Regions from separate parts of the Homo sapiens genome. Here regions 1 and 2 are each linked to region 3. The links come from fine-mapping of genetic effects on gene expression. A gene starts in region 3. Each other region holds a variant in brackets. All regions are shown on one strand. Distances are from middle to middle.

The links. PIP is the estimated chance that this variant, and not a neighbour inherited with it, causes the effect. A credible set is the group of variants that fine-mapping cannot tell apart.
Region 1: its variant is the best candidate, but not a certain one, in a credible set for the expression of HES6 in thyroid (GTEx, PIP 0.53).
Region 2: its variant is the best candidate, but not a certain one, in a credible set for the expression of HES6 in whole blood (INTERVAL, PIP 0.57).

What each region holds. Positions count from the first base shown.
Region 1 is chr2:238,161,065-238,170,826 of GRCh38, reverse strand. It overlaps ERFE (erythroferrone), which reads right to left. Exons shown (of 8, transcript NM_001291832.2): 2 at 9,111-9,233; 3 at 7,989-8,091; 4 at 6,828-7,090; 5 at 6,644-6,752; 6 at 6,467-6,557; 7 at 5,143-5,221; 8 at 1,937-3,871. The coding sequence ends at 3,773. It overlaps ILKAP (ILK associated serine/threonine phosphatase), which reads left to right. Exons shown (of 12, transcript NM_030768.3): 12 at 151-425. The coding sequence ends at 291. Among named protein-coding and RNA genes, the nearest start is that of ERFE, 7.0 kb to the right of the region's middle. RefSeq lists an enhancer at 7,169-7,669. The variant A/C (reference allele first, on the strand shown) is at 4,988.
Region 2 is chr2:238,180,584-238,190,345 of GRCh38, reverse strand. It overlaps ILKAP (ILK associated serine/threonine phosphatase), which reads left to right. Exons shown (of 12, transcript NM_030768.3): 4 at 374-493; 5 at 2,089-2,215; 6 at 5,059-5,165; 7 at 6,233-6,326; 8 at 6,606-6,693; 9 at 8,160-8,281. Among named protein-coding and RNA genes, the nearest start is that of ILKAP, 18 kb to the left of the region's middle. The variant A/C (reference allele first, on the strand shown) is at 4,812.
Region 3 is chr2:238,235,133-238,244,894 of GRCh38, reverse strand. HES6 (hes family bHLH transcription factor 6) reads left to right here and starts at 4,857. Exons shown (of 4, transcript NM_018645.6): 1 at 4,857-5,070; 2 at 5,148-5,234; 3 at 5,327-5,408; 4 at 5,644-6,628. The coding sequence starts at 4,990. The coding sequence ends at 6,068. It overlaps PER2 (period circadian regulator 2), which reads left to right. Exons shown (of 23, transcript NM_022817.3): 23 at 1-851. RefSeq lists enhancers at 2,946-3,451, 3,452-3,957, 5,858-6,426 and a silencer at 4,615-5,134.

The DNA of each region.
Region 1 (9,762 bases), 74 kb after region 3:
AGTGTGAACTCTGCCTACTGACTCACTGGTCAGTTTGTCCTGCCAGCCCTGATGGAGACCAGAGCAGCTCTTCTTCCTGGCAGTCATGTCTCAGGAAAGTGACAGGGTGCGGGGTCACTCCATTCACTCATTCCCTTTCTCATCTGGTAGGATGAAAAGATCCAGACCCGGGAAGGGAAGTCCGCAGCCGACGCCCGCTACGAAGCAGCCTGCAACAGGCTGGCCAACAAGGCGGTGCAGCGGGGCTCGGCCGACAACGTCACTGTGATGGTGGTGCGGATAGGGCACTGAGGGGTGGCGCGCGGCCAGGAGCACGCATGGTATTGACTTAAAAGGTTCATTTTGTGTGTGTGCACATTGTGTGTTTTGTGTACTCCTGTGGGACTCCCATGGTTGTAAATAAAGGTTTCTCTTTTTTTTTCCTAGTCTTTTGAGTTATTATACTGTGAGCACCTCTTGACCCTTCAGAGATTGTGTTTGCTTTTGAATATGCTGTCTTTCCTTGTTAAAACCATTATAGGCATCTTGGACTGGCTCGTAGTGGCCTGCAGGCTGCTGGTTGTGTGATGTTTTGTAGTTCACGGGCATTTTGCTGTGCTTTCACTGTCATGATGACCCTGGTTGGGGAAGTGGCATGTTGCAATGAAGAGACCCAGGGGATGACTGGTTAGTCAAGGCTAGGCCCAGACCAGGGCTTTGGGAACCCTCTAGCTCTTTTCAGTTTTCCCTATGGAAATAGTGTTGCAAAATGTTACATAGCATGAGCTCAGGCTTAGCCAGGAAATAGACTCATAGACAAGGTTACTCATGCATCAGACCTGCCAGAAACAGTACAGAATTAGCCATTCTCATTCCATTGGTGAGAGCTGCAGTCTGGTGGAAGGAGTCTGTGGAGGACTCGGTTCAGTGGCTTCCATCTGGACTCCCTGGGTGTAGGTGTGCACCTTCCTGTTGGAGCAGGCAGCCGGCTGCTCAGCATGGCCCGGAAATTCTGCTTCCCACGTGAGGTAGGTGTGGGGAGTTGGCCCTGTGCTGGAATGAGGTTAATCTTTGCAATAACACCTCAAAGGGGGACACTTCTGTTAAAGATGTTAAAAGCATGAAAAGAGTGCATGAAGAATAATAAGCTCAGAAGAATAAGCTTTAAAATACTTTTCAAGCACTTGTTTATATAGAAAACGTCATCATTATGACTGTAAGTAGTTTTTAGTAAAGCAGCTCTTGGATCCTTTTGTGTAAATGTTTGGCTCAGGATGATGTAAGATTCTAAAAATTTGCGTTTTCAGAATCTGTTTTGTAATGTTCCCTGGCCCCCACCCAACACACACACATGGTTTTATCACCCAGTTGATTGAGTGGAATTGGTATCCATGCTGCGAGGACCTCAGTGGTAAAGGCTTCATGTAAACCTTAGATGCCTCCTGGGGGTCTGTTGTGTAAAAGCCACAAGTAAGAACTGAACGAAGTGTTGGTGCTGCCCCTTCCTTCCCCAGGGAGTTTTAAGAGCCAAGTACCCATTTCAGTTTGAGGACTGGGACATTGTACAGTGTGGCCTCATTGAAGAAAAGAGCCCTGGCACCCCAGAATCAGGAAATAGAACCATTCATTTGGTAACTATCTTCCTATAGCAAACCAGGTGTTTGCACACTGATGTCTGTGACTCATACATCCCTATGTCCCACTGTTCCCGAGAGGCTTGACCCTAGTTTCCCAGGAAGGTTCACTCCCAGCCTTCAAGGGAGTCCCTCCCACGTAGAGGCTGGAGGCCATCTCCACTTCACCTTCCAGGTTCCTCCTTACTGTGCTTAGTTTAGTGAACCTGGGCTAAAGGATTGATTCCGGATCTTAAGGTCTGCCTTTTGTTTTGTAACTGTTGTGTCACATAGTTCTTAAGTAAGTACTTGAACCACCCCACGAAGTCAGTTATATAAATATATTCCACTTGGCAGTATTTATTAGACAATAAATACTTTAATAAATTGCTGCATAACACACTGAGAAAAATGAAAGAGATGTGGATATGTGGCTTTTACAAGAGTGAAAGATAAGTTCTCTAGAATATCTGTGCCCAGTGGATACAAAGTGAAATCTAGATAAGGGCGTGGCCACATCACCCCCTTATCAAAACACACGGATGCAGTACCCAGGCCAGCCCAGTACTTCTAGGTAGGGTGGGTGTGAGTCCTACTGAGAATCGCACCAGGCCTTTCCCAGGGCAGAGTGTTTGGTTTTTGTGTGTTACTGCACTTGGGGATGGAGATGTTTGATTCGATGTTGGGGTTTGGAAGCTGGGCTCCTGGGGATCATTCGGGCCTGGTGGCAGCCACCTCATCCGGAGGCTAGTTAGTTAGAAGGTGAAGGTGACTGGCCATTGCTCCCTTCTCTCCCAGGCCTGAGCGCCCTTGCCAGACCAGCTTGGCTCCCAGGAGGTCCTGAGGCACCAGGTTCTTCGTAGCCTGTTGTGTGGGGAGGCAGTGGGTTAACTCTTCCTCAGCAGGTAGGAGGCCCTGGAGGTCGCTGCCGAGGGCCTTGTCCTCTTCACTACCTACTCTGGGACAGTCCTGTACTTTGGGGAAAATGTGGGAGGCTACATTTGAGGAGGCTGCGGGCTCACAGCCTGTGTGTCCTCATGAGAGCTGCCGTCCCCATCCCCAGGCCCCATCACTGCCACAGGAGCACAGCAGGCTTGGGACCAGCCCTCCCAAGACCACCCTTTCTCGGGACCATCTCTCGTCCACCACCTGTCCAATGTCAGCGCCGCATGGCCACCCAAGTGGGAAAGATGCTTGGGAGGCTCATCCCAGAGCCGCTGGACCCAGCCAGGCCCTGGCACCCCTGGTGGAAGACTCTGCTTCAGCTATTCGGATGATGGGTCAGCAGGCCCGGCTGTCTCCAATCTGTAAAGACGTTCTAGATCTTTCCTCTGGTGGGTGGCTCCTACCAGTGAGTCAGCACCTCAGAGGGGAGGGGAAAAGGGATCTCATCCACCTCTGGAGAGGGTGGAAGGGGCCTTGGCTGTGAAGATTTGCAGAGGAGGGGAAGAGTGGAGCTCCCATTTGGAAAGGCCTTCTGAGGTGAATTTGTGAGTTAATCTTGCACACATTAGAACTAGAAGCTGGGCCCAGACTTACTGTCCCCCAAAGGCCCTTGTCCAGTGCCCCTCTGGCCCAGGCTAGGCAGTGCTCAGCTCCACTGGCAGGTAGAACACGGTTAGGGGAGGGGCAGGGAAGACCAAGGAGCCCAGATGGAGACCAGGGGAGTGGTGAGTGACCCCGTCCCTTCTAAGCAGTAAGAACACACAGCGTACGTCCCTGTGGCAGCCCCCTCAGCCCTGCGTCAGCTGACCCTCTCCCAGGTAGGGGCCCTGGCTGGTGCACTTTGCACTCCATGAGAACATGAAGAGAGGTGGAAAAGGTGGGGCTGGGCACAGGAAAGACGCAGAGGCCATCTGGGCAGGTGCTGAGCAGGCCAGGAAAGAGTCGGCCTGCAGCTGGAGACTAGCAGGTGCCCCCAGGCACGCCGACTCTTTCTTTCCTGGATAAGAGCCCAAGATGGTGTCCTGAATCAACCCTGGCTCCGGGACCACCAGCGTGCGTGTCACGTCCGTAGGCCTGCCTGCAGTGGCTCTGTGGGCTGAACTGCAGTGGCCAGTGTGGGCAGAGTTCCGGGTGGGCCTCCTCCTCCATGTGGCCACTGCTACTCTGACACTGTCCACACATTGTCTAGATCTGTGCTCCATTTGCCCCTGAGAGGAAGGGCCTGTGGTGGCCGCTCACACGCCCAGGAGGACAGCACTGAAGTGGGAGCCACTGCGCACTGTGAGGGAGCAGCCGCTGGCGTTGTCCAAGAACACGGAGGTCCACTGCCCCATCTGCAAGGAGGGTGCCTTTGAGGCACTGGGCCACCCCAACAGCCTGCAGAGGTGACCCAAGGGCCAGCCAGCCACACTCCCTCCTGCCCACTCAGCCCCGCTTTTGGGAAGGGCTCAGGCCCAGAGAAGAATGTGGCCGCCAAGGTCACAGAGCAAGGGCCCGCACGGGTTGGGCCCCACCCAGCACCTCTTCTGCTTTCCCTGCAGCGCCCTACAGTTCGCGTGTGTGGGAGTGGGCCCCTGCTCAAGGCCAGAGTGGGATTCAAGAGTCCAACAGGTTTCTCAGCTGCAGGGCTTCTCAGAGCCTGCAAGGGCTCCAAGTCAGGTGGGAGGGTGGCCCTTCCCCACAGGCAGTCATTTGGCAGAGCCTTCCGTGAAACCAGCACTCTAGCCTGGCTGCTCCAAACGTGGTCATGCACCAGCAGCGTGGTCATGCACCAGCAGTGTCACATTCCCTGGGAACTCCCAGAAATGCAGAATCTGGGATCCACCCAGACCTGCCTCAGGATCTGCATCTTAAGATCCAGGTGGGGCAGAGACCATCTGAGTTCACCAAGCATGCTGTGTGGCACCCAGAAGGGACCTCTAAATGCCTTTCAGCAAGCACAGACTCTGGGCCAGACAGCCTGGCCTCCATTTCTGGCTCTGCTGTGTGAACTTGGGCTAACTCGGGGAGTAGCTCTACCTTCTCCAAAGCTCTGGGAGAATTCAATAGCAGCTGTTATTCCACACACCTGCACTCAATTGTTTTCTTTGTTAGTAAATTCCACCTTTATGTCCATTTCTCTACCACTTGCCAAAATTCCCACAGTGCCAGAGATGGTCACTTAGGGTTTTGGGTAGGAAAATAACGTATCTGGCTTCCCATAGTCACAGGGGACTCAGGGCGTCAGCCTGGGCAGAGTGCTGGCCTCCATTCCCTCCCTGCACCAGTCCCTTCAGCGGGCTTGTGGTGGCCAGGAGTACTGGGCCTCAGGATGAGGTGCTCAGGGAGTCTGAATATTGGGAATGCAGAGCGGAGCAGCTGCTCAAGCGGGCAGGTGCCCTCGGGGAAGGGCTGTGTTTGGAGGAAGGAGATCAGGACTTGAAGCCTGGCTGCGCCCAGACCAAAGTGAG[A/C]ACTTGGCATGTCCTGGACCCTCTCCCAGGCCTGGAGTCTGAGGGTGCTGCACCCGACCCAGTGATCCTGAGCATCTAACAGCACCCTTCTGCACCCAGCCACCCGTGGCCATGCCCAGGCGGTGCCCCTCGATGCCCAAGCCTGCCGCACTCACCTGCAGGTACAGGACGCCATTCACAGAGATGGTGAAGAGCTCACTGCTGCTCTCCAGGCCCATGATGGCCTCCAGGGAGCTGTACCCAAAACAGAGGGAGGGTCAGCCTGCCCCATGAGACCCCACCAACTTCACCTACGACACACAATCCTGCCAGCAGCCAACACATGCCCAGCAAAGTGCCTGACCCTGGCCAGGTCTTCCAGTGGAGGTGGTGTCTGAACCGAGTCCCCAAGAGGAGGAAGGACACAGGGCCAGAGGCATGCTTGCTGTATTGGGAAAGGCAAGGCGAGGGCCCAGCAAGAGGCAGCAAAGCCCTGGCTCTGATGGGAAACAGGACACTGGCTGATGCAGCCGGAAGTGGGGATGTGGTGGCAGGTGATGCTAAGTTAGTTCAGGCCAACACACTCTGGGGGTTCAAAGGCAGACTAAGAAGTTTTGGACTTGATCCATTCATTCAAGTCTGCTCCAGCTATCCTACCCGCAGGGTATCTCCGCTGTACCTGGGCTCCCTTCTGGGTGTGGGGAGACAGGGAGCTCACAGTCACTGCACTCGTGGGCCAGATGGTGCAGGAGCAAGGGATGCGATCATGGGGAAGAAAGTTCCCGGGTGAGGAGTGGGAGGGCGACTGAGGAGGGGGCCTCCAGAAAGCTGTCTGGAGAGGCCTCTTGAAGTAACACTGGTGCTTCGAGCCCCAAGATGAAAGTCCCTGAGGTGGGAAGGAGTTGGGAGGCTAGGAGGAGCCCGGCCTCCTAGGACCTGGGGAGGAGGTGAAGGTCTGGGCAGGGAGTGGCCTGGAAAGGTTTTTTTTTGTTGTTGTTGTTTGTTTTTTTGAGACGGAGTCTCGCTCTGTTGCCCAGGCTGGAGTGCAGTGGCGCTATCTCTGCTCACTGCAAGCTCCGCCTCCCGGGTTCACGCCATTCTCCTGCCTCAGCCTCCCAAGTAGCTGGGATTACAGGCACCCACCACGCCCGGGTAATTTTTTGTATTTTTAGTAGAGACGGGGTTTCACCATGTTAGCCAGGATGGTCTCGATCTCCTGACCTCGTGATCCGCCCGCCTCGGCCTCCCAAAGTGCTGCGATTACAGGCGTGAGCCACCGCGCCCAGCTGGAAAGGTCATTTTTAACAGCTCCCAGTTGCTGTGAAGGGAAGGCCTGATAGGGGCAGAAGTAGACCGGGAGACCTGGAAGAAGGTGTGGGGTCACCTAGGCCACGGTGGGGTGTGAACGGGCGGAAGCCCCGTCCAGTGCCTGTTTAACCACCTCCAGCTTGTGGAGGCCGAGCGAATGCGGGTGTGGGGTCCGGGCCGGGGTACACTCACGCGTTGCGCTGGCACCGGGACTGGATGCAGATGAGCAGGCGCAGGTGGTCCCGGGGGCGCGGCGGCCCCCTCCTCGGCGGCTCCCCGAGCGCTGCGGGGGAGGGTGGGACGTGGTCAAGCGGGCGGGCGGCGGGGTGGGCGACAGAGCGGGCGATCCTCCCACGCCCCGGGCCTCACCCACGTGCAGCGTGGCGGCGAGAGCGTAGAAGCCAGCCACGGGCGCCCTGTACTGGCCGCTGGTCAAGTTCAGGCCCGGGCCGCGGCGGAAGGCACCCTCGGCGTCGGGCTGCGAGGGGCACGGATGGTCACCCCGGCTCCCGCCCGGCCGGACTCACCCGCCCTCCCGCGCGCCGGCACTCACCAGGTAGTAGACGCCAAGCTCGTGCAGCGCGCGCCGCTCCACCAACGCGTCCCGGCGCAGGCGGCAGAGGAAAGCGGCCTCCACGCGCGGCGCCCGCGGCCCCGGGGCCAGGGGCGCGGCCAGCAGTGCCAGCACGTCCCCCACCACGTCGTCGTCGTCCTCCCCGGCGGTGGCCGAGACCGGGGCGAGGCTCGCAGCGACCGGCCCGGCGGGGCCACACGTACAGGGTTCGGGCTCCGCGCGCTCCCGCTGCCGCACCGCACCTGGCACAGAGCGAGCGGTGGCCGCGCGCCAGGGACCCCTCACCCGCCCGCCGCGTGGGTCCAGCCCTGAACGACAGGTGCTAGCGAGACCAGGGGCCTGCCGGGCGCAGGGGTGGGGCGAGGGCGACGTCCCCTCGGCCTGAAGGGCCTCGGAGTCTTTGCGTCCTGACCCTGCAGCGGCTCCCGTTTCCCTCAAGATTTGGGAAGCTCGGGCAGAAGTGCCCCAGCGCCCTTGGCCTCCAGCCTCACCTCTACCCCACCCACATTTTCCAAAGACGCTGGGGGTAAAATAAGCGATTGCAGCTTTACTGGAAGTACAAGGAGGTTCTTCAGCGCAGAAGGTGCTATATTTAAACGAACAGGACATTGAACTAAAAGGAAAAAACGGCTCAATTCTAATGACTAATGTGAGCCGCCGCTCTGCAGGAGGCCTCAGTGTGGACTCCGCGGCTCCACTCAGCCCTGCCTCCTCCAGGGCAGGCTGCCCCAGCCCTGGCCAGTGGTGACTGTGGGTGCCAGGCTGAGCTCCACCTGGTGCTGCCCCATACACTAGCCTCTGCCTTTCGCTGGGCTCTCCTGACTTCCAGGCAGGGCATAGGCGCTGGTCCCTGAGCACCCGCCATACTGAGTGGCCAGGTCCACCTTCCTCTGTGAAGCCTTCTCCTGGCCATGGTTCCCAACCCCCAGCCATCCCCAGCCCTGACCCTTGGCAGACATGGGCCAAGATGGGGCAGAGACTGGACCTGGCCAGCTCTACTGTCCTTGAGTCCAGCCCAGAGCAGGTGCCTCCTTGGGTGCCCGCCGAAGTGTTGAGGTTGGCCCTGTCAGCTCCTCGGGACACCCTCCCAGGCCCTGCTCACAGCGGGGTGTGTGTGTCCCAGCCGGTGCACACCCCTACCTTTCAGCAGCAGCTGGAACTCCTTCAGCAGCGCCTCGGGTGGGATGATGGGGCCTGGGGGGCCCTGGGGACCGGGAGGCCCAGGGGGCCCTGGCAAGCCGAACTGAAAGGGAACCTTGGCAGTGAGGACATGTGAGGAGCAGGCTGGGAGCCACAGCATCCCCTGTGCAAGCTCTTGCCACTAAGAGGCAGGCAACAGAGCTCCCCAGTGGGCTCCAACCTCCAGCCAAGGATCTACCTCAGTGAAAGCTTCTCCTGGAGTGAGTACAAGGACTGTGCTGGAGGTGGGGGCCCTCGGGGCGGGGCTTTGGCAGGGAAGGACTCTGCTCTGAGTGGGGAGGCAGAGGGCTGAAGCCCGCTCCTGCGGCCAGGCCTCGTGGAGGGAAGAAGACTCTAGGCTGCTTTTGGGGACTTGCATCTCAGGGTCTGCACTGGGCCCGAGTCCACCATCAGCAGGTCCCCACTAGGCTGGGTTGGGACCCGAACCAGAAGCCAGTGAGCCCCCTGTGGGGAGAAGCTTAGGGCAGGGCCAGGAGGCTGGGCAGAGGTAGAAGGCCAGGCCACGAGGACAGCGCGGCCTGTGCACCTGCCTCATGCACTCCGAGCTGGCCTTCCATCGTGTGTTCAGATCCCAGGCAGGTGATACTGGCCCCCAGGGGACAGAGAAGCCCACACCCCGTATTTTCCATTTTGGGGGCTCCAAGCAGGAGGCAGCACCAGGACCAAGCACCAAGTTTCTGCCCAGGCCAAGACCTAAGGCTGAGTGAGGGTGAGAGGGACCCTGTGCCCCTAGTCCCTGGGAGCCAGGCACTCCTGCAGGCCCCTCCAGTGTGGACAAGGTTCTCACCACAGCCTGGGCTAGCCCAGCCTCCCTGGCCTGGATGCAGAGGGAGGAGAAAAGAGGGAGAGCCTGGCATTTTAGGGGTGTGGGGAAATGGTTGGGACCAGGCCCCTAACTCGGGGCTCCCCCTGGGGCTGCCTGGGTTCTCTCTGTTCTCTGTCCCCAGGCCGAGGCGTGAGGGGTGTGCTATTGGAAATGTTCAGGATGTAGGAGTGGGAGTGGATGAGGAGCGAGGAGGCGGAACCCCCCACGGCCTGGCACTGACGGGATGCCGGCCTCACCTTCAGCTTCTTGGCCTTGCCCCTGCTCCTCTTCTTGCCATTGACACCCTTGTCACTCTGCCTGACGAAGAGCATCCAGGCGTCCCGGGGGTCGACGCTGTGTGCACGCTCAGCGGTGGGCTCCTGGAACACAGCCAGCCCAGCAGGGCGGTTGGCCTCACTGGGCTCCTACCAAGCAGGTGGGACACTTTGCAGGAGGTGACTGTGTGGCCTTCTGTACTCTGGGACCCTGGTCCTTGTCACCTGTGGTGCCCTCAAAGGCAGCTCCCAAAGGGGCCCCAACCCCTCACAGCTTCTCCCCCGGCCCGTGGAGGATGACTCCTAGGGAACGGGCCACACCTCGGCCTGGACTTGGCACTCATGGGAGAGGCAGACCCAAGATGCCTGGAGGGAAAATGGGGTGCAGGGCTTGGATATCGGGGTGAATCCCCGTACTGCTGGGCCTCCTTCCTCCAGAGGAGCTGCAGTGATCACACCGTCCTCCAGTCACCAGGAGGATCCGACCACTGGAGCACCCATAGGTGCTCAGGAAGAAGCAACTGTGATTATCAGGGAGCCCAACTACTAGCCAACCCTCCTCTGTCCATCCTCCCCCAGTGTCAGAAGTTCTAAGGAGGCAAATTCAGCTCTCACAGCTGCCTCGGGTTACAGT
Region 2 (9,762 bases), 55 kb after region 3:
TAGGATATGTTAGTTTGCTTACAGATTTTGTAAGTGTTTGTTTAACACTAAGAGCCTGTGGATATAAAAACATGTATATGCTACAGGCCAAAAAAAACCATGTATTTTTACCACTGGGAAAAGTCTTTTACAAACCCCTTCAGCAGGGTCAGTTTGACTCAGGGCCTGGATCTTAACTTTATGTTCTCTCACTGTGGGACCCCCCTCCCCCTCCCCGCCAACCATGAAGACACAACTCCTGGGTCTGCCTGTGTCTGCCAGTCCTTGCTTCAAATGACCTTGTCTTTGAGTGCTAGGATGAAGCCCAGTCTACTAGTGACTTTTTCCAACAGTCTACAGCTGTGTTTCTGTCTGGCTTTTACTTTATTTCCAGGTTCTCTTGCCACATCAATATCCCAGATGGTAAAGACTGAAGGGAAAGGAGCAAAGAGAAAAACCTCCGAGGAAGAGAAGAATGGCAGTGAAGAGCTTGTGGAAAAGAAAGTTTGTAAAGGTTTTCAGACAATTTGAAAACAAATGTATTAGACTTCATATTTTAAAACAACCCAGAGCAAAACCAGTTTCAGCTTTCTAATAATACTTTCTTTTTATGTCTGTATTTAAGAAATAAGTAGGGTTCCCTTTTTGCAAATGAATTTCCAAGTTTCTCTGTGCTTTCTCCTACTTTTCATGTACATCTATCTCTGATCCTACCTTTGATCAGATAGGAAACCTACATTTGTTCCTCAAGAGTTAAAAAATACAGGTGGTTTTTTTCTTAGCCTTCTGCAGTGAATGGTTAGTTTTTTGACCACCTAGTCTCTCTCTGACTTCCAATCTTTGTTTGCAGTTTGTCAATTAGTGCTTTGAATTACGTGATTTAGCTTAGTAGGCAGCTTCCCTAAGCCTGGAAAAAGCCGTTGAAATTTGTAGTCAGTTGTGTAACTTGTCAAAGTTAGTGAGGAAGAAAACGAAAAGTATTAACTAAAGAGAATACTTCAGTTGTGGTACTAAAGTATTCTTGAGCTGTGGGATTTTCTTTTTTTCTCTTTTTTTTGAGACAGAGTCTCGCTCTGTCGCCCAGGCTGGAGTGGCACCATCTCGGCTCACTGCAAGCTCCGCCTCCCGGGTTCATACCATTCTACCTCAGCCTCCCGAGTAGCTGGGACTACAGACGCCTGCCACCACGCCTGGCTAGTTTTTTGTATTTTTAGTAGAGACGGGGTTTCACCATGTTAGCCAGGATGCTCTCGATCTCCTGACTTTGTGATCTGCCCGCCTCGGCTTCCCAGAGTGCTGGGATTACAGGCGTGAGCAACCGTGCCTGGCCCGAGCTGTGGGATTTTCATTGACTGCATTGTCCTTTGTCACAGATTACCTCAGTGAAAGCTGTATGATGCAGGCAGAGGTATGTGAAAAAACCCACTTGTAGCTTTGCTGGGAAGATGTCATCTTCAACTTAGCTTGTCACTTCCCAGAAGACAGCTCTTCACAGTGTTCATTTTATTATTTGTCTGGCATTAGGTATCAGAAAATAAGCTTAAATGAGTCTAACCATTAAATGTAAATAGATCTCTGCCTGCATTGGAATCTTTTATCCTTTTCTTCCTCAGTTGAAGTAAAAGCAGCTGATCTTACTGTTTGTTCAAATTCTTCACCAGCCTTGAGCATGGAAATACATATTTTCAGGGCATCTTAAGGGCTTTTGAGATAAACTCTCCTGACTTGCATTTGTCCTTATTCAATTATCACAAGACTAATTTGCACATGATCCTTTTGCCTGATTTGAATCTCACTTCTCTGGGATGGCAGCACATCCCTTGCCCTGATGCTTTGACTTACACCCTAGACAGAGTTGTTTTGTGCTCACTGACTCCTCTTTTGTGTCCCTGTGCAACCTCTTAGAGCTCACCCTGTCCAACAGTGCTCCGATTTGAGTTATAGACTTGCAGCTGGGGGAGATGCCTTAAGGGGTATTGCTTATTTGTTTGCGCCATTAGGATATTGCTGAGTCAGACAGTCATAGTTCCCTCTCATTTGCTCTGGGACTAGGGTTTCCAGAGGGTTGGGCACAGTTTTGTATTGGCTCTTTTGTTCTCTTTTCCTTAGCCTCTTCGGTGATCTTTGGTCTGAAGGGCTATGTGGCTGAGCGGAAGGGTGAGAGGGAGGAGATGCAGGATGCCCACGTCATCCTGAACGACATCACCGAGGAGTGTAGGCCCCCATCGTCCCTCATGTGAGTCTCATGTGGTAGGAAGCCCGGCTGGCATTAACATCTCCTGGGTTCTGACTGGCATTTTGGACTGGCTAGTTTGTATTTACTAGAAAATCTAACACATCACTTGATTGTACATCAGTGATTCTCAGCTGGGGTTGATTTTGCTCCCCGCCCAGGGGACATTTGTCAGTGTTTGGGTACATTTTTGTCACAACTGCGGGAGGGAGTTGTTACTGGCATCTGGTGGGTAGAGACTAGGGATGCTGGTAAACATCTTAGAAGCACAGGGCAGCCCCACAACAAAGAATTGTTCAGCCTGGAATGTCAGTAGTGTCGCGGTTGAGCAGCCCTGCTGAGCGGGAGATGACGCTTCATAGCATGGCTCTGCAGCGTGTGTTACTCCTTACCAGCAACTGAGCGGCTTCTGGCAGAGAATATTTTTAATCCATGACCTAGAAGATAAGAGTTGGAAGCCACTAATTAAAGTATGAATGGTGATCAAGCAGAGCTAGTACAGATAATCAGGGCCCAGGAAGAACAAAAGTCAAAATGATGTCAAGGAAAAGACAGACAATGAAAAATTAGCTGCAACTATACAAACTAAAATGAAGCCTTCTGGATAAGCTCTTGGGCCTGGAAAAAAACCAGAAGGTAGGACATTAAGTTGGCTGTAAACATACATTATAGTACATATTACATAGGTTACATAATTCAGAATTACATAATAAATACATTACGTACCTTTACTGACACCAGTTGGTCATTAACATACAGTGTGCTGGAGCCGTTTGGGCTGATGGCGTTTGTCCAGTAGATGAGGTCTGCTCATGGAGATGAGGTGATGGCTGCTGCAGAGCAGCTGATCATATGTAGAGGGGACGAGATACACACCCATTGAGACAGGGTCTTGCTGTCTTGCTCAGGCTGGAGTACAGTGGCACAATCATAGTTCATTGCAGGCTTGACCTCCTAGGCTCAAGCAGTCCTCCCACCTCAGCGTCCTGAGTAGCTGGGACCATAGGCATGTGCCACCACAGCCGGCTAATTTTTTGAATTTTTTGTAGAGACAGTGTCTCCTTAAGTTGCTCAGGCTTGTCTCAGAGTCCTGGGCTCAAGCCATCTTCCCACCTTGGTCTCCCAAAGTGCCAGGATTACTCGCATGAGCCACCATACCCAGCCTGGGATTTGCATTAAAACCAGGAAAGGGACCTCTGGAGCCCAAGAAGGCAGATCCATTGAGTGTAAATTTAATTGGGAACACTACATCATGCCTTGCAAATAACAGGCAGTAAGAACAGCTCTGAGTTATAAACCAGATGAGGTTTTTTTTCTCATGGCTCAGGATGTCCTAAATTGAAAAGGAATTCCAAAAAACTTGAAAGAAAAGCAGCTCTCTAGAATAAATGTCATTTCTCGTGGGCATTTTTGTTTTTTTTTTTTCCTTGAAATAGTTTATTTGATGTCTTTTATTCCATATATGTGGGTTTTCTGGCAAAATTTGAAAGGGGAATGGGAATAAGAGTAGTAAGATAGGTTTTAAAAATGAGATATTTAAAATTTATTTGAGTAACAATTCTGTAATATCCTCCCTGCTCTTATGCAGTCATGTGCTGAATAACAACATCAAGTCAGTGATGGACTGCATATATGACGGTGCTCCCATAAGATTACAAATTTTGTAGAGATGGGGGTCTCGCTATGTTGCCCAGGCTGGTCTTGAACTCCTGGCCTCAAGTGATCCTCCTGCCTTGGCCACCTCCCGAAGTGTTGGGATTAACAGGCGTGAGCTGTCGTGTTCAGCCATAATACCATGTTTACTGTACCTTTTCTATGTTTAGGTATGTTTAAATACACAAATACTACCAGTGTGTTACAACTGCCTATGGTATTTAGTGCAGTAACATGCTGTGCAGTTTAGCCTAGGAGCAATAGGCTCTACCATGTATGTAGCTTAGGTGTGTAGTAAGCTGCGCCGTGTTAGTTTCTGTAAATATGTTCTATGATGTTCACACAACAAAGTCACCTAACAATGCATTTCTGTTAAGTGATGCATGACTGTATTTTTTACTGTTTTCGATAAATAACTTGATCTGTTTGTTAATGTTTAAAACCAAATCCGATTTAAATAGGAACGGAGTTCTGAATTTTAGTTTTGTTGTCAGTGAAAAATCAGAATTAACAGATCTTGATCTTTGAAGCAAATGTGAGTTTTAAACATTTAATGTAAAATACTGGGAAAAGTGTTACATCTCTTTTAGAATATTAGACCTTTAGCAGGTCTTGCAGTCTTCACCAGAAACACTCCCACACCTACACACACACAGTGTTTTTGTTTTTTTTTTTTTTAGACAGAATCTCGCTCTGTCACCCCGGCTGAAGTGCAGTGGTGCGATCTCAGTTCACTGCAAGCTCCGCCTCCTGGGTTCACGCCATTCTCCTGCCTCAGCCTCCCGAGTAGCTGGGACTGTAGGTGCCTGCCACCACGCCCGGCTAATTTTTTTGTATTGTTAGTAGAGATGGGGTTTCACCGTGTTAGCCAGGATGGTCTTGATCTCCTGATCTCGTGATCCGCCTGCCTCGGCCTCCCAAAGCGCTGGGATTACAGGCATGAGCC[A/C]CCACACCTGGCCCACACACAAGTATTTTTTTTTTAAAAAAAGATAAAATGCTGTGAAAGTTACTTAAATATTTGTCTCAGTTAAAGCCTTTTTTTTCCCATTTGTAACAGTGTGACTGGTGTCTTAACCAGTGTGACTTCCTCTGACTTATTAATGTTCACTCTTTGAGACGAAATTTAAAAGCTTTAATGGAAAAGTGTGGTTTTTGCTGTGAGAATTTGATTAACTCTCAATTCGTTCTTTCAGTACTCGGGTTTCATATTTTGCTGTTTTTGATGGACATGGAGGAATTCGAGCCTCAAAATTTGCTGCACAGAATTTGCATCAAAACTTAATCAGAAAATTTCCTAAAGGTGAGACTGAGAACTAAATCAGTTGATACTCAAATTGGTTATTGCTGTTTGGTTGGCTGTGTGAAGCAGTCAGATGTGTTATTTTGGCTTTAGCAGAGAATCATTGATGAGTCTTAAAAGAGTGGTGCTGAGGAGTGGATGCCAAGGCTTCCAGGAGTAGCGGCCATGCAGGTGTGACTTAGAATGGCACTTCTCATGATTCTAAGTGATAGGCACCTTTTGTCAATCGTCTTTGGGTTCAGTTAGTGTCTTGCCTTTACTGGAAAACTAGTAAACCAACTTCAAATAGCACTGTGTTATATGTGAGGAAAGAAACAGAGATTGTTCTGGCTGGGCACGGTGGCTCACACAGCACTTTGGGAGGCCAAGGCCAGAAGATCACTCAAGCCCAGGAGTTTGAGACCAGCCTGGCAACATAGGGAGACTCTATCTCTATAAAAAAAAAAAACAAACCTAACTGGACATGGTGGTATGTGCCTGTGGTCCCAGCTGCTCAGGAGGCTGTGGTGGGAGGATTTTCTGAGCCCCAGGAGGTTCAGGCTGCAGTGAACCACAGTTGCACCATTGCACTGCAGCCTGGGTGACAGAGTGAGACCCAGTCTCAGAAAAAAAAATTTAAAAAAGGAAAGAAATAGGGATTGTTCTTAATCATGCTTGAAAATCAATTGATGTGCAGAAATTACAAAAACAAAATGGCCAGCCCTGGTGACCCACGCCTGTAATCCCAGCATTTGGGAGGCCGAGGCAGGTGGATCACGAGGTCAGGAGTTCGAGACCAGCCTGGCCAATGTGGTGAAACCCTGTCTCTACTAAAAACACAAAAATTAGCCTGGCATGGTTGCGCGCGCCTGTATTCCCAGCTACTCAGGAGGCTAAGGCAGAAGAATCTCTTGAACCTGGGAGGCGGAGGTTGCAGTGAGCTGAGATCGCGCCACTGCATTCCAGCCTGGTGACAGAACGAGACTCCGTCTCAAAAAAATAAAACAAAAAACAAACCAAAATGACAGTGGGAGGAGGATAATCTTCCCTCCTTGAGAGATTGTTTTCTTTTGGCCCTTCTGTAATAGGAGATGTAATCAGTGTAGAGAAAACCGTGAAGAGATGCCTTTTGGACACTTTCAAGCATACTGATGAAGAGTTCCTTAAACAAGCTTCCAGCCAGTAAGTATAACTTGATGATGAAGTTTGAGTGGACTGTGTGTGGTGTTTTCCTAAATGCATTTCAGTCTTCTGATGTGGTTTAACACTATTGCTCACTGTCTGAAAAGTGCGTAGCACTCAGCTTTTATAACCGTTAGCTAAATCTAAAACAGAAAAAAAGCAAGTATCAAGGAAATGGTTCATTTTGAAATATAAGATACTTCCCATTGAGCTCTGGAAATTAGTCTCAAAGTGCTGGGCTATTGGTGGTGACTGTGTTTCTGATGTGTTTCCCCCCAGGAAGCCTGCCTGGAAAGATGGGTCCACTGCCACGTGTGTTCTGGCTGTAGACAACATTCTTTATATTGCCAACCTCGGAGATAGTCGGGTATGTGGCTCTGGAGCCACCCACTTAGATGACAATACGTTTTATGGGGAAAAGACTTTAGCACGTACTTGTTGAATAAGATTAAAGTGATGGTGTCTGGTTGAAACCTTTCTTCTGGGGTTGCTGCAGAGTGTTCTGCTGCAGTTTAACTTCTGGGTAAGGGAACAGCAACTCAGCTAGAGGCTGTTTGTTCTCTGGGGAACTTACGCCCTATGATAGACTTGTGCTTTAAAACCCAGATCCCGTCTTTTTTGTTTCTTTTTTCCTCCCGTGGTTTGTGTGTGTGATGCTGTGGATCAGAATGTAATCAGTATGCAAGTAGCCTAAATCTTCTTTTATTTCCTTTCTCTGACCTTAGACAGTAATGAATGAAAAGCTTTAACCCCTGCCTATCAAAGTTACTGTGATTTCAGAGTAACTTGAGAGCTGTAGCTAGAAAATACCAGATGAGGTGCCATTCATCACCCGAGCCCGGTCCCTGGCTGAGGGAGAAAGCCCAGGGTGTTGTTCCCCCTGGTGACAGTCGTGGGGATGCTGTAAAGCCTAGAGGGTGCTGCTGCGGAAAGCTGGATGCAGACCCTGCCTCCTCTGCATCAGGACCATGTGTTCCGTTCCGTTGCCGCTTTTTCACCCGGCCTCCTTGCTCCCTAGGCAGTCACAGGAATCAAGTGACTGTCCACACTTAAGCAGCATCTTTAGACCCCTCCCCACGATGCTTCTGGGGGGATGATTCATCAAATACTAAGTGCTAGGGGTATGGCAGAGACTATAACAGATGACAGCCCCTGCCTGGTGGAGTTTACATTCTGGTGGCCCTTTAGTAGACTGGCCTTAGCCCACATGTGTTTAGACCACATGACTTCAGAAATAGCAAGAGGAAAATTGGCAAAAAAACAAAGACAGGAGTCAGACCCAAATTTGAATCCTGGCTCTGCTCTGTGACTTTATTGAGTTACTTATTCTTCGTGCCTCAGTGTCTTCCTGTAAAACAGACACAATGAACCTGGCAGGGGCGAGAACACCTGGAGGCACTGGTGTGGACGGCCTACCTGGCACTCGGCCAGCATGCACAACGCTTGCCCTCCTCTTTGCCTTCCATAGGCTCATGGACATGTCTCTGGCCTTCTAGACTCCAGGCCAAAAGGGACCTTGATACTTGTTGAGTGCTTCCTTTCATGTCACAAATGTGACAACAGCCAGAGTGAGCACTTGTCTGTAGTTATTCAGCAGAGTTTGTACCAGAGTTGATATCAAAACCAGGGGCGACTCTCTCCCTAACTGTTGTGTCTTTGACACTTCTTTGCTGCTTGATTCTCTGAACTTACGTTTATCAGCAGGAGGCTGAATGTGAAACTCCATTGTTAACTGTTTTCTTCAAACTCCATTGTTAACTGTTTTTTTCAACTGGTACCTTTAGATGCTGCGCCCACTGAATTTCATGACTATTACAATCTCCATCTTCCCAGGCAATCTTGTGTCGTTATAATGAGGAGAGTCAAAAACATGCAGCCTTAAGCCTCAGCAAAGAGCATAATCCAACTCAGTATGAAGAGCGGATGAGGATACAGAAGGCTGGAGGAAACGTCAGGTAACCAAGGGACTGAGAGGAGCTCATGGGAAGGAGGGCTGTTAGCTGTAGAAGGGTCCCGAGACCTTCAAGGAGTAGAACTTCCCCTGTTACGTAGTCTTCAGTGTGACGAGGCTCTGTCTGAGATCTAACACTGGTGACATAGGTGGATGACAGTTGTAGATTTCACATGTGTCCACGTGGAAGGAAACTTGCCTCCCTACATTTGCAAAAGGACAAATTCATATTTACCATTCACAGTGTTTTCTCTGTGCCTAGGAAGTTTCTTAAATACTGTCACTTTTCGTGGTGGCGGGCGCCTGTAGTCCCAGCTACTCGGGAGGCTGAGGCAGGAGAATGGCGTGAACCTGGGAGGCGGAGCTTGCAGTGAGCCAAGATCGCACCACTGCACTCCAGCCTGGGCAACAGAGCGAGACTCCATCTCAAAAAAAAAAAAAAACCAAAAAAAAAACCTGTCACTTTTCACATTGAATAAGTTACAGTTTTAGGTGAATTCTCCAGAGAGAAAATCTGAAGTAGTTAAGACGGGTTAAGTAATGTCTTTGGACTTCTTGGGAACAACTGGCACAGAGGACCATGTCTTACTTGGCTCTGTCTTTTGCAGTTTCATTTCACTCTCTCTTTAAATCTTTGAAAACCATATGTCTGCTCTGGTTTTATTATCTGCTTCTATCCAAGGCAGCTAAAGGAGGGCATAAGTCTTTTCTTTAGAATTCCACTTCAAGGACATTGCATTATGAATTAGACCAGGAGTATTTTCTGGTTTGTTGTACAGTTTGACTATTAAAATTTTATTTTCTGCCAGAGATAAGAGAGATGTCATCTCTTAGTATAAGACTGCACTTACCTATCCTTTGAAGTGTAGTTTCTCTTCTGTTGTTCATTTGGGGAAGCCTTTTTTATTGCTCCAGGCTGAATCTAGTCAGTGGTACAGGGAGGTTTCTGGAGAGTAGTTGGAACCCTTAGCGTTTGTTCAAAAAGCTCTTGGATTAGTAAGAAGCAGTTTCATTCACGGTCGCTGCAGTTTACATGAGCAGTGATGGGATTATAGGCCTGGTTTCAGGCCTCAAGCAGTGCTGTTGGCCCAGTTTTTGCCACCGTAACTACTGTCCTGGTAACTACTGTGGACAGTCATGCCTGAGAATGTGACTCTAACATGAGCGTAAGCATCACCTCTTCTCCCCTTTCTTGTAAGTTTTACATTCATTCTGCTTTTGCCTGAACTCCTTGAAAATAATTGGATACTGACAGTCCGATGGCTGAAAGTAAGGCCAGTTGTGTTGCAGTTGCTTCCTATATCCCAGTCCTTACCTGATTCAGAGAAGTGTTTACATGCCTTAGAGAAATCATTTGACAGTGTGGGTTTTGGGTGACTCCTTCATCTCAGAGAAGGGCTGAGGCTAAGAGACCAGCAGCGTGGGTCGCTGCCCCTGAGCAGCAGAGCCCTGTCGTGGTCTGTTCTCCTGCCTGAGGCCAGGGCT
Region 3 (9,762 bases):
TTTGTATTTTTAGTAGAGACAGGGTTTCACCATGTTGGCCAGGCTGGTCTCGAACTCCTGACCTCAAGCGATCCACCCACCTCGGCCTCCCAAAGTGCTGGGATTACAGGCGTGAGCCACCACGCCCAACTGGGACCAGGGTTTTCTGTTTTTTGATGGAGGTGAAATCTCTTTGTAATCCACTAGGTTTTCATCGTAAAACCATCTTATGCCTGACTATTAAACCTATTCTTCATAAACACAAGAACACTTTAATTTTTCGTTAATTTACAAAGTAACATCAGCTGCCTATGCCTATGATAAGGTAGCAGTCTGCATTCTTATGGCCATTAGATGTTACAAACTCCTTGCCTCTAAAGTCAGATCATGAAGGGATAGGTGTTCATCTAAGGTTACAGTTATGTTACCGAAACACAAAACTGCCAAAATCTTACTCTGCTGTTATGAATGTTTACCATCAGCATTATTTTATCATTTAATATGTGCTCACTGATTGTTAACTGTAGCTTCAGCGCGTGCCAAGCAGTTGACTTAATAGGATCATCTTGTGAATTTGTTTACGTGATGCCAAGCATCAAGTCATGTTTTCTTTAGTGTGTGTGCTTACACAGGTGTTAAACAGTTTTTCTCTATTTTAAACTGAGCCTTCTTTTTAATATATTCCCGAAGAGATATGTAAATAAGCTCTCAGAGTTTCTGTGATGATTTGTTGAGCCTTGCTGGACAAGTGGTTTGTTTGTGTGCAAACCAAACTTTCTTTACCCAGTGCAATAGATTTGTTTGACTGCTTGTGTCTTTTTATGACCTGTTTGCCTTTTAGAAAATTGGTAAATAAAGCAAGTATATTTTTATTTTTACTTGTATGTATTTTTCACATAGCACAAAGGAAAACCTGAATAGAGAGCAAAGATTATTTAAAAAAAATTTTTTTAAAGAACTCCAGGAATTCTGCATTAAAGAATCTTACATCCCAAAGGCCTCCTGGCGGTCAGCTCCCTTATAGCGTTTGCTTCTTGCTGGCTCCCTTTCTTCCTGTGCGTGTCACACACACACCCTCCTTCAGGCTGCAGGAGTGAACTCACGTAATGCAAACCTAATCGTGTCATGCCCCACAGTCTTTTCACTTTTAGTTGGAGGGGTGCAGCTGTCTGGCTCAGCCCCAGAGTGCCCCCAGCTCTGCCTCCACGCACCTCTGTCTTCCCTGCATCCCTGCCCTGGGTTACCTGGCCTTTCCAGGCTGGCTGCCTGTCTTCTGGTCATCGGGCTAGGTAGGGCTAAAGGTGGGGCGGTCAGGAGGCTCCACCAGGAAGGTCACATGTCTCCATTGCGAATGATATGGGCAGGGCGGCATAGTCCCCTGACCCCAGCCCTTCTTTCACAGTGATGAATGAAGCCTTGTGAGGCCAAAACTGTGGAAGCCCGAAGAGTTGCTCCCCATCCCTCCCACTCTTCAAACCATGACCCTGGGGGTGGGAGCAGAGAGCTGAATGGATCCTGAACCCAATGCCCAGCCTCTGAGAAGCTCCCTGAGCAGAAGGGAGGGGCTCTCCTCTGCCTGCTAGCCTGGCTGCCTAACGCCAAGTGCTGATGGGATAAAAGGCAAAGTCCTCCCTAGCGAGCACAGAGGCCTCTGCAAACTGCTCTAAATGGCCAGATATGGTTGTTTCACTGAACCTGAGTGCTTTTGGAAGACTCTTAATTGTATTTTTATTTACCATATAACCCCAAGGGATTTATTTCCAAACCAAACGGAGATTCTCTGAGTCTCCTGGGCAGATTGCCCACAAGGGGCCTGGACAGTCTACAGGCCGCAGCTGCCTTTGTTCCCCCAGGGATTTATGGCCTGCCACCCCCACTGCTAACTGGTATCCCCGCAGCAACCACCACCCTGCCCAGCCTCTGCTGGCCTCTGTTCCTGGCTCTAGGGGGATCAAAGGACTCAAATGCTCAGGAAGTCCATACTCAGGCAAACTTTGAAGGCAGGACTGGCCCAAGGGACAAATGGCAGGAAGTGTTGGCTAGGGGAGGCTGCTGTGAAGGAGGGAGGGAGGGCTTGGTGACCTCAAGATAGGCCAGGCTTCTGGGACAAAAAGGCCATGCCAGCTGGCCAGTGCACCGCTAAAGGGAATTGAAGCTGACCTTGCAGAGGGGACCTTGGGCAACTTCCAGTCCAACCAAGAAGGATTTTGCTGATGTACAGCCTTCTCTACTTAAGCTCTTTTCCCTGTAGGATCCTTGGTCACACCGAGGCATATCCCAGTGCTTAATTTCTCCCTCCCTCAACTCTAGACAGCATTCCTCAACCCTCCACCCACTCCACTGTCAGACAAGGCTTTTGAGGTCCCTAGTCCTCCCTTTAGCCTCCTCTCTCATAACTCCTATCACCTGTCCTTTTGTTTTTACAAGGTCAACTTTATATCATGTCCCATAACCATAAACAATCCTTCCTTGCCTTCTGTATAGATTAATTCTAAATGTTAAAACCCTATGAACACTGTTACATTGTTGTGACTGTGAAAATTGTCTCCTGAGCCAAGTAATGTGCTAAGATTACATTTCTTGGGAAGCTTTTTGTTTTTCCTAGAGTTCCTAGTTGCTTTTCTTTCTTTTTTTTTGCTTGCACCATTTGCCTTTATCATGTCCTCCTTGCCCCTCAAATCCAGTTCCCCATCCAATCAAGTGTTCAGTCAGGCTTTACCCAAAGTCCTCTTTTGGGGCCCTGATCATCCTGTTGCAATATAAATTGCCTAACATAAAGCAGATGTTTTAGGATGAGAGCATCCTAAAACATCTACTTGGCCTTGTTCGTTTGGATAATGAGAGGAGTGTAAATCAGTTTGCAAACTTGGGAGTACAGGAAATATCAGTGAGTTTATTTTTCCCTATCACAGTTTCTCGAAGTAGTGGAAATGTCATTGTAGCCACTTGGGGGAGTGGAGGTTCTCCTTCCCTGGGGTGATGTCTAAGTGGTGAAGGAGAGTAAAGTCACAGGCTAATAATCCACTTCCTTGGGATCCACCACTCCAGCCCCACCCTGCCAGCCCCACTACTGGGCAGGTGGGGAGTGTGTGAAGTAAAGCGGTAGTTTCACACCCAGGTGAGTGATGCTGGGCTGGGGGAAGTCTCAGGACCCTGCTCATAGAGCAACCAAGAGCCAGAGCAGGGACAGTTGGGAGCCAGCGGGAGGGGGTCCCAGGTAATTACAGAGGTCAGTGAGGTGACTTTGGGAGCTTTCAAACCTCTCACCAAACTCACCCAGCAGGAAGCCTGCAGGGGTCCCTCTGGTGGAGAGGCGCAAGTAAAGGGGCCATGGGAGGCCTGTCAGACCTCTCTAGGGGCAGTGGGGCGGTCGGTCTGCAGCCTAGTCCTGCCGCTCCGCTCAGCTGCTGCGGTCCCGTGATGTTCCCCTCCCACGCGGCCTTCCAGCCCATCCTGCCAGGGCCACCCCTCACCTTCCCTACCTACCAGCGCTTCTGTGAGGCCAGGCTCTGCTGGGGGTGCGGGGAGGTGGACAGGGGGTCCTAGGTCAGACTGTGCCCTTGTCCAGGGACGCTTATAGCCTGGAGGGGCTCAGAACAGACCCTGACGATCCCAGCCCGGGTGAGTAGTGGGGACTGAGGAAGGCAGGTGCTGTGCGGGGCAGGCTGGTAGTCGGCCGGCTGGGGTCCGAGAAGGCGTCTCCCGTTCCGGCTCCTCCACACAGCGTCTGGACTGACGCCGGGGCAGGAGCCGGGCAGGGGTCCCCAGGACGCTGCCCGAGGGCGCGGCCCCACCGCCCACGCACCCCGCCCGCGGCCAAGAGGAACCCAGCAGATGGGCGGCCCGCCGCGATGGGGGAGTCGCGGGCGTCTGGCCGGGACAAGCGCCCGCCGCCTGCCCGCCGGACAAAGGGTGCGAGACAAAGGCGCGGCCAACACCTGTCGCTCTTGGCGCGGCCGCCGCTTTTCTCGCTTTTCTCCGCCGAAGCGGCCGCAGCTGCCAACTGTCACGGGCATCAAGTTACAGGACCAGACGGCAGCTTCGGCGGGCCTGGGAGGCGGGGCGCGGAGGACGAGGAGGGGAGGAGGGAGGCGGGCGGGGGGCAGTGGAAGGGAGGGAGGGGGCCCCGGGGGCCAAAGGGGACTAGAGGGAGATGGGGGAGCTCAGAGGGGGGCGGGGCTGGTGACCCGCAGAGCCCAGGGGGAGAGCGGCGCGGGCGGGAGCACCCGGGACCCCGCCCCACTAGGACTCCAGTGCTGGCGGAGGGCGGCGTCGGGGGTCCGGCCCGGCGTCTGGACGAGTCCGGAAGAAACTCAGGGGCCGCCCCGCCACCGCTGCCCAATGGACCCTGCCTCCCCGGGGCTTGGCAGCCACCCCAGCCGGGACCTGAAACCCCTCTAGGTCCAGAGACCGCGGACTTGACTGTGGCTCTGCACACCAGGGACGCATCTCCTGGGGCCAGTGGCCCCAGCGCTCAACTCTGGAGGCGCCATCGGCGAAGGAGGGAAATGAATGAATTAATGGGTGAATGAATGAGTGGACGGACGGACGGACGGACGGGTGGACGCCTGCTCGCACGCGCGGCAGATCAGTGGTCCTAGAGCAGCAGACGGAGAGAAACAAGCGCGGGCAGGGCCGCAGCTACCCGGGGTCGCCGCCCCGGTGCCGCCCCCGCGGGGGTCTAGGGAAGGCCGGGCTGGGGGCCCCGCCTAGCTCAGCCAGCTGCCCGACCGCCAGAGCCGCTGGGCCGGACAAAGCGCGCTGCCCCGATTGGCTGCAGCGCGCCTCGCGGTCGGCCGCCCCGGGCCCGCGCGGCCAATCGGCGCATTGAGATGCAAATAAGCGGCTATAAAAGGGGCGGGACCGCGGCGGGCCGGAAGCCGCGAGGAGCGCGGACGGCTGGGCTGCTGCTGGGCGGCCGCGGGGCAGCGGAGGGCGCCGGCACTCCGGTCCCCGCCGCTCCCCGTCCCCGCTGCTCCTAGCCCCTGCCGCGTCCCCGGCGGAGCGGGCATGGCGCCACCCGCGGCGCCTGGCCGGGACCGTGTGGGCCGTGAGGATGAGGACGGCTGGGAGACGCGAGGGGACCGCAAGGTGCGGGCCGGGGCCATGGGCGAGCAAGCGGGCGGGAGGCCGTGCGGGGCTGGGATTCAGTGCCCCGCTCCCCGCAGGCCCGGAAGCCCCTGGTGGAGAAGAAGCGGCGCGCGCGGATCAACGAGAGCCTGCAGGAGCTGCGGCTGCTGCTGGCGGGCGCCGAGGTGCGGCGGCCGGGCAGGCGCCGTGGGGCTGCGGGGCGGGCGGGCGGGTCCGGGAGCGCGCTGCCGGCTCACCGCCCTTCCCGCCCGCGCAGGTGCAGGCCAAGCTGGAGAACGCCGAAGTGCTGGAGCTGACGGTGCGGCGGGTCCAGGGTGTGCTGCGGGGCCGGGCGCGCGGTGAGTGGCGGCGGGGCGGGCGGGGGCGCCGGCCGCGGGCGCCTGTAACCCCTGCCAGACGGAGGACTTCCCTCCCGGCGCCCCTGTCCTGTCGGCGGCGAGGGCTCCCACCGGAGCAGGGTGCGCCCCCGCGTCTCCTGGGTGAGCCGCGTCCCCGCGGGCCGGGTGGGCTGGGCCACGCAGTCGCCGCTCACCGCGCGGGACGCGGCTCTCTCCCTCCCACCCTCGGGCCCAGAGCGCGAGCAGCTGCAGGCGGAAGCGAGCGAGCGCTTCGCTGCCGGCTACATCCAGTGCATGCACGAGGTGCACACGTTCGTGTCCACGTGCCAGGCCATCGACGCTACCGTCGCTGCCGAGCTCCTGAACCATCTGCTCGAGTCCATGCCGCTGCGTGAGGGCAGCAGCTTCCAGGATCTGCTGGGGGACGCCCTGGCGGGGCCACCTAGAGCCCCTGGACGGAGTGGCTGGCCTGCGGGGGGCGCTCCGGGATCCCCAATACCCAGCCCCCCGGGTCCTGGGGACGACCTGTGCTCCGACCTGGAGGAGGCCCCTGAGGCTGAACTGAGTCAGGCTCCTGCTGAGGGGCCCGACTTGGTGCCCGCAGCCCTGGGCAGCCTGACCACAGCCCAAATTGCCCGGAGTGTCTGGAGGCCTTGGTGACCAATGCCAGCCAGAGTCCTGCGGGGGTGGGCCCGGCCCTCCCTGGATCTCCTCCCTCCTCCCAGGGGTTCAGATGTGGTGGGGTAGGGCCCTGGAAGTCTCCCAGGTCTTCCCTCCCTCCTCTGATGGATGGCTTGCAGGGCAGCCCCTGGTAACCAGCCCAGTCAGGCCCCAGCCCCGTTTCTTAAGAAACTTTTAGGGACCCTGCAGCTCTGGAGTGGGTGGAGGGAGGGAGCTACGGGCAGGAGGAAGAATTTTGTAGAGCTGCCAGCGCTCTCCCAGGTTCACCCACCCAGGCTTCACCAGCCCTGTGCGGGCTCTGGGGGCAGAGGTGGCAGAAATGGTGCTGGGCACTAGTGTTCCAGGCAGCCCTGGGCTAAACAAAAGCTTGAACTTGCCACTTCAGCGGGGAGATGAGAGGCAGGTGCACTGAGCTGCACTGCCCAGAGCTGTGATGCTCTGTACATCTTGTTTGTAGCACACTTGAGTTTGTGTATTCCATTGACATCAAATGTGACAATTTTACTAAATAAAGAATTTTGGAGTTAGTTACCCTTGAAGTATTGTTGAGTGATGTGTCATTACTGTGTCAAGATATGTAAATGCTAAACTAAGCACATTTCCCCTGCATCTGAGGCTGGTGAATGTCCTTTAAAACCTCACCCTTTCTCAGCAGAGTGAGCAGTGTGATGGTGGTGGGGATGCACTCCGTGGCTGTCTCTGCAGCAGGCAGTGCTTCTGCCCCCCATGCTAGGCAGGTCCTCAGACCCAGCCTGTTCTTGGGCATTGTGTGTCCTGGAGAAGGAGTTTGTTTGCATGAGGCTTGTCTCCAGGGTAACTCAGCAATAGGGAGATGACCTGTCTCTGTGCCATTTTCTTGTTCATGAGCTTCAGGAATAATAAAATAATGCCTAATTGCTACCTATTTGGTTTGAAAGTATCTTTTAAAGACCTGTTTTAGGACCCACGAGCATGACATAGACATGAGTCTACTTGTGTGAGGTTGTTGCTTATCTTGACTGAAGAAGGAACTTCCCCACTGCTGCCATTGACTTCAGGGTCAAGGAGACCCACCCAGTTTGTGGCCTGAAATGAAAGCGCCAAGGCCCCAGGGGGCTTGAGCGTTAGGTCAAACTGGGTCCAGGAGGTCAGAACCCTCAGGGATGGAGGGTGGCAGGATGGGCAGCTGGGGTGCGGGAGCCTGCCCTCTTGGGCTCGGCCAGACCTGCAGATAGCACGTGGTCAGCCGGCTGAAGTCACCGCCACAGTTAGCCTAGCCCCCTCCTCCTGCTCCAGGACCCCAAAGCAGCAGCTTCTCACTGTGGGTTGGCAGTCCCCAGGCTAGGGCCAAGGTGTGACAACTTAGGATTGACGTCGGGGTCTCCTCTCTGGACATGTGCTTTTGCCTTAAGAACACCTTTCCCAGCAGCCCCTTTACAAAAGCCCCCAAGCAGGTCCTGGCCACCAGGGGTGTTTCAAAGTTTGAGGTTCACTCTGGCTCACCTCAATTCAATCATAGAAGCCATTGGGCTATAACCAGATGCAGCTTTATCATCTGGAGCCGAGCTATTGGGGCAGTGGGGGAGCCAGTGCCACAGAAGAAGTCTTGAGCAATGGAAATATCATTCCTGGGATTATTTTAATGTCCTCAGACAGGCTGATGTAGGATGTACCCACCAGGACACGGATGGATAACGGGCCATCCTGAAAGCCCTGGTTTCCAGTAGCACCCAGAGGCCATGCCAATGAGCTCTCATGCCATTCAGGGAGCATCAGCCATGGACTGCTTCAAAGGAACAACTTTCACCTCTCAAGTCCACTCATCACACCTTCCCAGATGCCCTAGGAGGGGGTCAAGGGGAAGCCCAGGAGGCAAGGTGCAGGAGGCTGACCTGGAGTAAAAGCGTTGCTAGGACCAGAGTCAGAAGCCACTAACCCAGAACTCTGGCCCTGTGCCCCTCCAGCCCTAAAGTCAGCTTCACAGTAATCCTCAAGTGCAGCTTCTTTTGGAAATGTAACTGGCTCCCACACCAGTGACCACTGTTGGCCTCCTGGGGCTGAGAGCTGCTCTTGCCTGCGGTGCAGCCTGGGGCCACCAGCTTCCCAGCCAGCTGGTTGTTTCACACCAGCTCCTCTCCCAGCACCCCCAGGCTCCCCACAAGCCCTTCTCTGAGGGCTGTCTCCTTCCCACCCGGATCCCTTCTCTAAGGGCTGTCTCCTTCCCACCCGGATCCCTTCTCTGAGGGCTGTCTCCTTCCCACCCGGATCCCTGACCCACTGTATTACTTTTCTATGGCTGCCAAAACCAACGACCACACTCTTGGTGGCTTCAAACACACGATTATTGTCTTGCAGTTCCACGGGTTAGAAGTCTGTCAGGATTCACTGGGCTAAGATCAAGGTGTTGGCAGGCAGGGCTGTGTGCCTTCTCCTGCCTCTTCATTCAGGGGCCACCCACATTCCTTGGAGGATGGTCCCTTCCTCCATCCTCAGAGTTCCTCGGAAGCATTGCGTCTCTCTGACCCTTCTTCCTTGGTCACGTCTCCTCCTTACTTCTACTTTTAAAGATCCTTGTGATGACACCAGCCCCCTGGAGAATCCAGGATAATCTCCCTGTATGAAGGTCTTTAGCTTAATTCTTAATCACATTTGCAAACTCCCTTTTGCCATGTAAAGTAGCATATTCGCAGGTTCTGGGAACTAGGATGTGGTCATGAAGGACATTCTCTGTGACACCTGCCTGCACCCTGGCCCAGGCGTTCTGCCTTCCATCATGAAGCAGTGTGGCGCCCGCTTCCGACATGGGCATGGGCCCCCATCCCTGCTCACCTGCTCAGGGACTCTGCTCTCCACTGCACCATTAGCTTCTCCTCCCTTCTGGATCATTCTCATTAACCTACAAACGGGCTGTAATATGAATACCTTTACTCGGAAGAACCTCCCTGGATGTGACATACTGTTAGCCTCTGTCTCAATGCTCTAAAGCAAAATTCCTTGAAAGCGTCATCTACACTTACTGCCTCCACTTCCACGCATCCCATTCCTCTTCATTCCTTTCCAATCAAGCTATTGTCCACCCTTCCACTGGAACTGCACAGTCAAAATCTCTAGTAACGAGCATGTTTCCCAACCCAGTGGGCATGTCCGCATGTCAGCTTCACTTCTCGTGGGTTATGACTCATCCATCTGGAGGCTCCTTCTCCAGTCTCAAGGGCACCACACCAGCCTTCTTTCTACCTCATCGGCCATCCTCAGTCCCCTGTACTCAATGCTCCTCCCTGCCGACCTCCAACTGGACGTGTTCTTCCCAAGGCTCTGTCCTCAGCCTTCCCTGCCGCCCTCCAACTGGACGTGTTCTTCCCAAGGCTCTGTCCTCAGCCTTCCCTGCCGCCCCCACACCCAGTGACACCATCTGGCCCGTTTTGCCAATCCCATGCCCTTGATTCAAAGCCCCTCTCCAGGCGGCTGGCTCCTCTGTATCCTCCTGTCCACTCAGTGACTGCACTTAGATGTCAGATGGGCTCACACCACCACCAAAACAACAGATCCTCAGGCATTACCACTTCTTGGTACCCCATGGATTGAGCAAAAAAATCTAGATGTCACCCTCAAGTTCACCCTCTTCCTGCCATCCCACGTCCTATCAGTCAAGCCCATGAGCACTACTTCTTCTTCTTTTTTATTTTTATTTATT